Linked DNA regions of Homo sapiens: region 1 is linked to region 2. The links come from fine-mapping of genetic effects on gene expression. A gene starts in region 2. The other region holds a variant in brackets. All regions are shown on one strand. Distances are between the middles of the regions.

Region 1 (5,384 bases), 30 kb before region 2:
GACAGTGTTGCCAGTTATTCTACTACTATATAATGTGATTTGCCCTTTATCAGCCTCCAGTAGCAGTTTCCTCTCAGGTCCTCAGGCTCCACTAATAATCTACTCGCTGCACCTACTGCCTCTTCCAGCCACTCAACCCCAAAGCCAATGCCACATAGTTTAGCTTTTTGTTACAGCAACATACCATTTCTGGGTATAAATTTTTATATCTGGCCGGGCACGTTGGCTCACGACTGTAATCCCAGAACTTTGGGAGGCCGAGGCAGGCGGATCACCTGAGATCAGGAGTTCGAGACCAGCCTGGCCAACATGACAAAACCCTGTCTCTAATAAAAATACAAAAATTAGCCAGTCATGGTGGCAGACGCCTGTAATCCCAGCTACTCAGGAGGCTGAGGCAGGATAATCGGATAATCACTTGAATCTGGAGAGTGGAGGTTGCAGTGAGCTGGGATCGCGCCACTATCTCAGCCTGGGCCACAGCAAGACTCCATCTCAAAAAAAAAAAAAAAAAAAAAAAATATATATATATATATATATATATATATATATATATATATATATATATATATATATAAAATCAGTTTTCCATTCCTATGAAGTAAATGACCATATATATATATATATATACACACACACATATATAGAGAGAGATAGATATAGATATAGATATAGATCAGTTTTCCATTCCTATGAAGTAAATGACCCCAAAATTTAGTGGCTTAACAGCAATTTCTATTTCTCATGATTCTGTGAGTTAGCTGGGTCACTCTTCTACTGGTCATACCTAGGATCATTCATGCAGCTGCATCCAGCTTGGGGACTGGGCTCAACTGGCCTCTCCTACCATACGGTATATAATTCAGGGCTTCTTTATAGCATAAAGGTCTTAGGGTTCCAAGATGACAAGACCCAACATGCAAGTGCTTATCATACCTCTGCTTCTATCACATTTGTTTTATTTTATTTCATTTTATTTTATTTTATTTTATTTTATTTTATTTTATTTTATTTTATTTTATTTTTTGAGATGGAGTTTCACTCTTGTTGCCCAGGCTGGAGAGCAGTGGTACAGTCTTGGCTCACTGCAACCTCTGCCTCCCGGTTTCAAGCAATTCTCCTGCCTCAGCCTCCCAAGTAGCTGGGATTACAGGCATGTGCCATCACGCCCGGCTAATTTTGTATTTTTAGTAGAGATGGGGTTTCACCATGTTGGTCAGGCTAGTCTCAAACTCCTGATCTCAAGTGATCCACCTGCCTTGGCCTCCCAAAGTGCTGAAATTACAGGCATGAGCCACCGCGTCTGGCCCACATTTGTTTATATCACGTTAGCCAAAGCAAGTACAAGGCTGAGTCCAGTACAAATGTAGGAGAGGCATGTATAAGGGTGTGGATACTAGGAGGTGTAATCCATTCAGGTCATTGCTATAACAATCTGCTCCAAAACCAAAATGTAAGTTTCATGCTTTTATCTGCATCTTTAGTCAAGTATATAGCCCAATATTTTGTTCACTTGGACTTAATTGGCATGTTTGTTTAATTGAATTAAAGAGGTAGAAAGTTTTAGAAACACAAGGACCAGAAAGGCTGAAACTATTATAGTTTTGGAAAGCCAAAAGACTATAGAGCAAAGCTAACCATTAAAAAACATTTTCTCACCATTTTTCCATATTCTTGTGAATCAAATATGTTTTCTGACCAAAGGGATTTAGGGTATCATAATTTTCAAATAAATGACTGACTCATCAACCTTGTCTCTGTTATGGTCATAGCTATTCCAGAAATAAATTCCATGTGAATTTGCAAATTTTCTCATCCTAAATAACTGTTTGAACATCTGAATAATCACACAATGTAGATTCCTCCGTATTTGCACAAGAGAAAAAGAATTAAATAGAATTACTGGCATTTCAAACCCAGTATTTGAATTTTGCTAAGATTAGACGCTAGACTTGATTTGTCTTTCCCATCTGAGGATATAGGTATATTTAGTTTTTCACTAAAATAAAGAGAATCATGGCTGTGTTTTAATGGCCTCAAAGGTTCTTTTCCTAACAGTCATTTTCTCCAGAAGAGGTTGAGGTTTTTCATCAACAGTAGTGGATAATGATGAGCACATTTTGAAACTGACTAATGATTAATGATATCTTCCTTTCAAGGATTGATAGACCATAAAACTCTGCACTAAAGGACACATTCTTCCCTTGCTACCAATTTTGAGTCTAAGAATCCAGGTATGTTTGCACTATTTTTTCCCATGAAGCAGAATATCCCATCAAAGTGTAACAAGGGGATTCACTGAGAACTCAATTTGCATGTGGTGGTTTTTTTATTTTGTTCTGTTCTGTTTTGTCTATTTGCTTGCTTGTAATACAACTACCCCTCTGCCTAAGTTTCCAGTTCTAGCAAATGATGTTCCTACCCCAACGTAGGGGACAGGAGGGGTTCCTGAACCTATTTTTTGGGACCAGATGGGGCCAGTAATGCATTCTCTATTTGAAACTCCTGCTACCAATTGGTCCTGATAAGTATGTGCAGCCTATTGTGATGCTGATGATAACAATAGCCAGTGTTTATTGATCCCTCACTGTGCCAAGCATTGTTCAAAGCACTTTATAGTATTAACTCATTTAATCGTCACAATTCTCTGAGGTAGGCATTATGATTTATTTCTACTTTATAGAGAAGGGCACTGAGGTGTAAAGCAATTTATTCGGGGTTAAATAGTTTCAAATGGCAGAGCCAGGATTTGAACCCACCACCAACTCTATTGCTTCAAAGACGCTGGGCTCAAGCAGAATTCAGAATTTTTTCCTACATCTGTGTCCTTGGGACTGTATCCTCAGTAGGAAGTCACTGATACTCACAGGCTTCGATGTTAGTTGACCTATCTGACTTTCTGATGCTTTGCACAAATTGTTAATAGAAAGGCAATTATCAATGACATCTCAGCCTAGATTGTCTCCTTGATTGTTGGGGAGACTATATTATCCTAGAATCCAAATGGGATTTCTACCC[A/G]GGCCACTATCTGTGCTGATATGTCATGGCCTCCAACCCCACAAAGCTTGAACTCTCATGTGCCACGTGCCCTCCCTAGTCACCACCACCATGTCCCACCCTTACACACAGTCAATCCAAATGTGTTTCCTGAGGGTGTACTGTATGTCAGGCTCATAGTATACACAGAAGATAGACCCACATACTGGGAGCTTTCATTCCCAACAGCCCAGACTTCCAATTTGAGAAACATGATTACTTTGGGGAAACACCAACCTGGAAGTCATTGGTGGGGAGAAATGTTTTAGGAAAGATTCAGACTAAACCACCTTTGTAGTCCCTTCCAACCCCACCCCCATCCTCTTAATTTCTCTGTAAGGCAAGCATTTATTAGTTTGATTTCAACACACACACTTGTACCTGTAATTACTATATAATGTCTGTTTACTTTTTTAAATGAAAATGAATTTAAATTAATCTTGTTTTGTGAATTTCAAGTCACCCCCTGAGATAAATGAAGACACTCCAGGGTGTCATCAAACCAGTGCTGGGAATCCTACTCTACAAAGTAGAGAAGAGAGCTCATTAAACCTCGAAGGAGCCAGAGGGGAGACATGTATATAGACATAGAGCACACTAAAAAGAGAGTTTTATATGTGCATTATACACACACACAAATACACGTGAAAGGTGGTACACCAAAATGTGGTTATCTTTAGGTGACTTGTTCCTCGTAAACTTAATATGAATGCCATTCATGACTAAGCTCTCTGCACCAGAGAGGAGATCCTGGGAGCAACATTTCCAAAATCCTTCCCATAGATCTTGAGTGCCAATGAGAGGCACCTGTGTAAGATCTGGAACGAAAAGAGAGACCATCGTTTGCCAGAGATAGGTAAGTGCAGAGGCAGATGAGAGGCTGAAAACAGCGTCCAGGTGAATTTCTTGGGATCCCCCCACATGAGTGCTGGAGTCTGAGATCATTGGTGGGAATTTCCCGGAAGTTCCTGAGACTTACAGTGGAATTGCTTCCAGGCAAGATCTTAAAGAGAATCTCATTTAGATGTTACCAGCTCAGATCATCTGGTACCTTTGCTACTCAGCCCACCTGCCAGGTATGTAAACCTTGAATTTCTCATATTGCTTCCTTTCATACTAGGAGAGCATAGAATGGCTTCTCCTTTCCTAATCAAACACCAACTAATATAAATAGGTAATAGGTGATGATTTTTAACATTTTGCATGTGTATGTGTTTTAATGCTTTTACAATAAACATATTATAATATAGCAATAAAAGCTTTAATATGTGTTTAATATATAATGTCATAAATATTCTAATACACATGCTGCAGAAGCTCAGAAGAGGGACACAAAACATGAATTGGAGCAGGGAAAGCTTCCTAGAGAAAGTGGTCTCTTTTCCCAAAGTGAAACTTAAGGAAGTTGAGATGTTGCTGCAGGCCAAAGGTAAGAGCAGGGCAGGAAAAAGGCACAGCATGGGCACAGGCACATAGGAGAGCTCTGCTCCTCTGACTGACTACACATTGTTCATTGTGACAAGACAAACACTTCTGCAGAGGAATGAGGTAAGGTGAGGCTGAAGGAAAAAGCAAGAGGCCTCATCCTGGAGGGCTTGATATACCAGTCTATAAATCTTGGGGGTTTGTTCTTGAAGACAATAAGGAGTTATTGAAGAACTGGAAAAGTAACATCCATGCTCTGTAAAAGTCTCTGCAGGTTCACAGAGGGGAAATGTGTAGAGGCCGGAATACAGGAGGCCAGTCCAGGGATCCACAGAGATGATGGGTCCTAAGGAGGTTTTGGGGGATGGGATTTGGGTGGGAAGAAGGTCTGCTACAGAGGGGAAAGGAGGGCTTGTGTGAAAAAAGGTTGTCCATGGTGCCTTCTTTCCCCTAAGCTACAGGGAGGCTAGAGACATTTAAATTGGAGGATAATGACTGGGGCACTTTTTGCCTTGCCTGGAAACTAACGTAAAGGTAGGTAGAGTAGGAAGCAATGTTTCAAGCATTCCTCTAGAAAGGAAATCTGGAAACCAAGCCCTTCCTTGGAACAAAAAACAGGAAAGGTACATGTACATTAAGCCTGTTTTTCTTGGACATCTTTCTAACCCGTAGATAAAGCCAATGTGTTGTTCTAATCCAGGATTCTTAGGTGGTTCTAATTGACCTCAAGTTTTCACCCAGGCCAGTTAGGCCCCTTTGAGGCCTCTCCCTCTGCTGATCAGCTCCTCCACCCATATCCCTGCTCAGCTAAAACTTCTCAGCTCCAGAGAAGAGACACCTGGAGATCAACTCACTACCTCTGTGACCAGACCACTTTCTGGATGCTGCCGATGACCAAAGGAAAAACAGAGCTGCAGGACAAA
Region 2 (5,384 bases):
CACTGCTTACAATAGCTCACCTTCACCGAACACTTCCTACTTGCTAGGCATTGGTCTAAGCCTGCAATATCCAAGAAGGCAGACACTTGTCACATGTAGCTGCTTAAATTTTTTAAATTTCAACTAAAGTAAAAACAATTAAAACTTCAGTTTCTCTGTGTCATGAGTCAATTTCAAGTGCTTAATAGCTCTCTGTGGCCACTGAACTGGATAGCCCAGAAAACATTTCATCATCACTGAAAGTTCTATTAGATCTTGCTGTCTGAGAGCATCTTATGTTTTTAATCTTGTTTAACCTTCATAGCAACCCTATGATGCAGGTGTAATTATGTATCCACTTTAGAGATAAGGACCCTGAGACACAGACTGGTTAAAAAACTTACCCAAGGTCTCTCACCAGATTCATATCCAGAGTGAGGATTCAAGCTCAGATATTTGGCTCTAGGGCCTACCATGCAGAGCTGTCCCCTACCCCAAGCTCTCTTGCTCTCCCGTCTCGCCTCCGGAACTGGAATGACTTATCCTGTTCCCCAAAGGCCATTGTCCCTGACTACTGCCGCCCTGACAACTGACTCTTTGAGTGATGAGAGCACCTGGGCCTGGAGCCTCTTCTGGATGAGGATCCACACTCTATTTTCATCCCACCTCCTTTTAGCCCCTGAATTCCCTTAGAGTATTAGTGTTAGTATCATGGGTTTTAATATCTCCACTAACCCATCCCATTCTCAGTTCAAGGTCAGCCTGAGTCCTGGAAGATTCCAAACCTGGGCAGCAGCCCTGTTGCTGTTCCCTGAGGGTCACCTTCATCCCCAAGGGAACAACATGCAGCCAGCTCAGCTCAGGCTCAGCTCACCAACACCTTTGAAGGTGCAACAGCATCTCACTCTGCAGGGGAAGTGCGAAAAGTCAGATGCAGTTCACACTCTCATGCCGCTAGAACCCGGTAGAAGTTGCCAGGGCAGAGGCTTCATCCGTTCTGTGTGCAAACCACAAATGTTTGCAAGCTAGACCACTTGCGGTTATCCCCTCTGTCTCCTGCCCCAGCTGCTGCCCTGCAGGGACTCCACACACCCACAGGACCTGCAGCTGAACGAAGTTGAAGACAACTCAGGAGATCTGTTGGAAAGAGAACGATAGAGGAAAATATATGAATGTTGCCATCTTTAGGTGAGTGGACAAGATTTCTACTTCCTACTTTACTTCCTCACTACTTTTCCCTCTTTCCTAAACAACTGAGTCACCGAAAAAAATGCCTGGCAGTGTCAAATTAGTTTCCCACTTCCACTGAGTCAGACAATCTAGGGCAAGAAAACTTAGAAAATTCTCTCTGTCCATTCCTGGCCTCAGCAATAGGCACATCAAATTCCATCAGACTATGTAGAACTTCTCACTTAAAGATTTCCAGGAAGAACTTTACTGTCAGAAAATGCTTAGCCAGGCATGGTGGTGCATGCCTGTAATCCCAGCTACATGGGAGGCTGAGGCAGGAAAATCACTTGAACCTGGGAGGCGGAGGTTGCAGTGAGCCAAGATTACACTCCAGCCTGGGCAACAGAGCAAGACTCCTTCTCAATAAAAAAAAGAAAAAAGAAAGAAAAGAAACAAGAAAATGAAAATGCTTCCTAGTATTTTGCCTGACTCTGTGTTTCACCGTGAACTCCCATGTTCTGTCCACAGAGGAGATGAGAATGTGTGACCTCTTTTTCTGTTGAGGGAACATTGAATAATTTCCAGTTTTTATCTATTACAAATGATGCTGCTATGAGCACTCTTGTATATGTTTTTTCAGGCTTATATGTATACATTTCTGTTTGACATTTACCCAGGAGTGAAAATGCTGAGCCATCAGGGATCCCTGTGTTTAGTTTTGGTAGATTCTGCCAAGCCATTTTCTAGTGACTGTACCAATTTATATTCCCACTAGTGGTGTACAAGAGTTCTAGTTTCTTCACATCCTCACCAATACTCAGTAGAGGATTGCATGGGGAGGGTCACGGGCTCCCCCAGACCCAGCTCAGTCTCAGCTGGTATCACTCCCTTATTCTTATGGAAGGTGTAGTGGTATCTTATTATGGTTTAAATTTGCATTTCCACGGTGATTTATGATGTCTAGCTCCTTTTGCTATGTTGATTTGACACGTGGATATCTGCTTCTGTGAAGTACCTATCCAATTATTTTTGCCCATTTTTCTAGTATGTTGTCTGTCCTTTTCTTACTGACTTGCAGAAATTCTTATATTTCTTCTGTGGGCCCTTTGTCAGCTACATGTATTTAAACTATCTCATCACACCACAGCTTGCCTGTTCCTTCTCTTAATGGTGTCTTTTAAGGAATAGTTCTCAAAATCATACTGACAGTCTTAAAAGCCTCAGATGCCGAAGCTCCATCTGTGTTCTACTCCAGACTCATCGATGTCTGATTCCCTCCTGAACTGAGGATCCTGTGAAGCATCCTCAGGGCTCCACTTCTCCATCGCATTGCAGCATCCACACACATTTACCTCTGGAGACAGGAGCTCCTTGGAAGCTGGGAGGTCACTCGGTGGTCAAGGGGTAGATGATCTTAGTTTTACAGTGCTGCGCTGTCTCCCAGGCTGAATGACGCTGAAGCCAAGCAAATTCGGGCAGTCTCTGGACCTTTCTAATGGAGGTGTCCCATAACCATGTTCCATCCTAGTTCCCTGGCATAGGCTTGTTGAAGCTGCAGAAAATGTCAGGGATTTATTAGTGATTTACCGACTCCTTCATACTTAGTGTTCAGGAAAATTTATTCATGTAATACTTCTTCAACCAAAGAGGAAATATCAATTAGAGCTTTGTAAGTTTCTTTTCCACTTCCTATTTTGGCTATCAAGCTATAGCACCACCCAGCTCAGGCCACCCACCCACCTTCGGTCCTGAGGCCTGGTTGCTCTCTGCCGGCTTCGCCCTGACCTGTTTCTGACCTGTGTTCCCTCCGCTGTGCCAGAACAGGCCCCATGCTGCTCTGGACGGCTGTGCTGCTCTTTGGTAAGTCAACGAGCATGGGCATCCCCTCTTGGAGCACTAAGGACCGTAAGTCATCCCTGAGACACCAAGTTCCTCATCTTACCTTTCCCAATTCCAGTGGGTTTGTGGCTGGAGCTCAAGACAGGTGTGTGCACCTGGGCATGCTTGGGAGAGATGGGCACTGGGGTAGGAGAAACTCCTCAGTGTTTCCTACCCCGTAGTCCTGGGTCCTTGGCAGCGCAGCCCTTTGATATGTCAGAGATAAATTAGGGAGGCAGAAAATCACATTACAAAGTCCCCTAACTTCCCAATGACATTTCTACCTTGTGACATCAGGTTAAAATACTAATCAGAGCTGTCTCAAAAGGAAATGGAGGTTGCAGGAGGGAAGGAGGCTGCTGGGGGCAACAGGGAAGGAGTCAGGGAAATGAGGGGAAACAGTCCCAGGCATTTTGCTCAGCAATGGGAGGTGGAATTTTACAGGGTGACATATTTTTATGGAGCCTCAGCATTTTCTTAGAACCAGGTAACAATGGCCAGACCTCTCACCTGGTTGAAAGGCCTGTGCTCTGAGTAACCAAAGCCCTTTTCAAATTGACTGTCTCTCTTCCGCCTACATCTTCTCTCTGTTGGGAGCTGTTTCAGATCCATGGGGCTGGTTTGAAGAATCAACTCCATTGTCTGATCCATGTCTCTCTCTCTCTTCTCTCCATTTCTTCTCATGCAGGCTACTTGTAACTAAGAGAGCTGGTCTAAGGGTAGAGGATTGCACGCAGAGGGTCACTGGGCTCCCCCAGACCCAGCTCAGTCTCAGCCAGTGTCACCCCCCTTATACCTAAAAGAAATAATTTGGCATATATTTTGTTTCACTTTACAGTTTCCAAGTGGACCTACTTTTTGTTTAATTCTTGGTCCCAATAGCTTGCTTGCTATTTGTATTCCTTGAACTAGAAAAGCAAAACTGTTCCTAAATATAACCTCTTCCTGGACAGAGTTTGTGAGAATTTGACCCTGTGAGGAAAATGCCCCTTCCACTCAATGTTCCTTCTCCAGCATAGCATGCTACTCGTGTGTTCTATGAATGGCCATTTGGACAAATGAAAAGGTCTAATGCTCACACTGAGGCGGGGACAGGATAGCCTAATGCCTGGATATACTCCAGGCAGAAGACTCCCAGGGGCAAATGGCACTACCGGCACTACCTTGTAAAAGGAACAGCCCTTGGACTTGTCTAGATACAGTCTGAGAGTGTTCCAGCTTGGAACCCAGGACGAGGATGACAGACAGCAAATGAGGAGAGGAAGGGAATCAGTGACCGGCTGACTGGTGCACAGTGTAATGGAGAATCCAGCACCAGCAAATTTGGTCCCACTTGATGCTCAGGGACCCTGGAAAAACAGCCTAAAACACAGACACTGGGGCTGGGTGTGTAGCAACATTTATCTTACCATAAGTGTAGAGCTGCTATTTCCTCTCTCAAGAGCAGGGTGTGGTCATAATAAATTGGTGGCTATTACTATTATTGGCTGTCAGGGCTCCGGGAGGAAAGGAATCCTGACATTGAGCATGTGGGGACCTGGCTGAATGTGAAATATGTATTTAAAGTTTGGGAAATTAGGCTTAATTTTCTTCTGAGCTGAACATTAGCCAACTTCCCTCCTACCACTGGAGGCTGCTCCCCGCATTCTCACACAGCGTCCATAGGAGGTGTCATGGGGTCCCATACAGCCCTCCCAGCAATGTGACTGCTGCAGCTTGGCACTGCAGCCTGTTCCACAGTGCTAGAGCTCAGTGGTGAGAGAGTTCTTCATGTTGAGCCGAAATCTGCCTCCATGATCCCTCTAGTTTCCATTTCTGTCCTATAAAGTAACTCAGAATAAGTCTCCCCCTTCTTTTAAGCTTAGCCCACCAAGTATTTTGTGTCTTTCCTCTGTTGCATCTTTCCCAGATAAATATCTCCCGATCCCTCAGAAACTTTAAGAGGAAATTATCCTGCTCCTAGAGTTGGCAGGGGCTCCTGCCTTCATTTTTCGGAATTCTATTACGCAACTTGGTTTGACCATAGCTCTTGGCCACTTCATGATACTGTCACCTCATCTTCAGCCTATAGCTAATGGAGGTCCCTGGGCCCTCATTGCAGGAACTGCTGTAAGCAGGTGTCACCCCCTGTGTATGTTCCCAGTTGGCTGCTGTTTTGATTGCAGAAACCAATTTTGTAATCCCACCTCCAAGATCTTGCAGTACCATGGGGAGCAAGTCATTGAGATTTGGGGACAGGAGCTCATTTTAAGTGCATCTATGCTTCCTGAGTGCCTTCTGTCTTGTTTTTGGCTTCAGTAGTCTCAACCCTGTTTGTTTAGCACTTTGTAGCTGCACAATTGTTTTCCAGTGAGGTG

Which allele goes with the higher level. Positions count from the first base shown, and alleles are read on the strand shown. Sizes are in standard deviations (SD) of each study's normalised expression.
In carriers of allele A in region 1, the expression in subcutaneous fat of the gene that starts at base 2,914 in region 2 tends to be lower than with G alone (small effect, 0.36 SD a copy in GTEx).

The links. PIP is the estimated chance that this variant, and not a neighbour inherited with it, causes the effect.
Region 1: its variant is the best candidate, but not a certain one, in a credible set for the expression of FCRL6 in subcutaneous fat (GTEx, PIP 0.83).

The regions. Positions count from the first base shown.
Region 1 is chr1:159,769,531-159,774,914 of GRCh38, forward strand. No RefSeq gene overlaps it. Among named protein-coding and RNA genes, the nearest start is that of DUSP23, 8.7 kb to the right of the region's middle. RefSeq lists an enhancer at 1-6. The variant A/G (reference allele first, on the strand shown) is at 3,019.
Region 2 is chr1:159,799,447-159,804,830 of GRCh38, forward strand. FCRL6 (Fc receptor like 6) reads left to right here and starts at 2,914. Exons shown (of 10, transcript NM_001004310.3): 1 at 2,914-3,009. The coding sequence starts at 2,979. LOC105371464 (a long non-coding RNA gene) reads right to left here. Exons shown (of 3, transcript XR_922195.2): 1 at 3,092-5,384; 2 at 2,502-2,701; 3 at 1,035-1,116.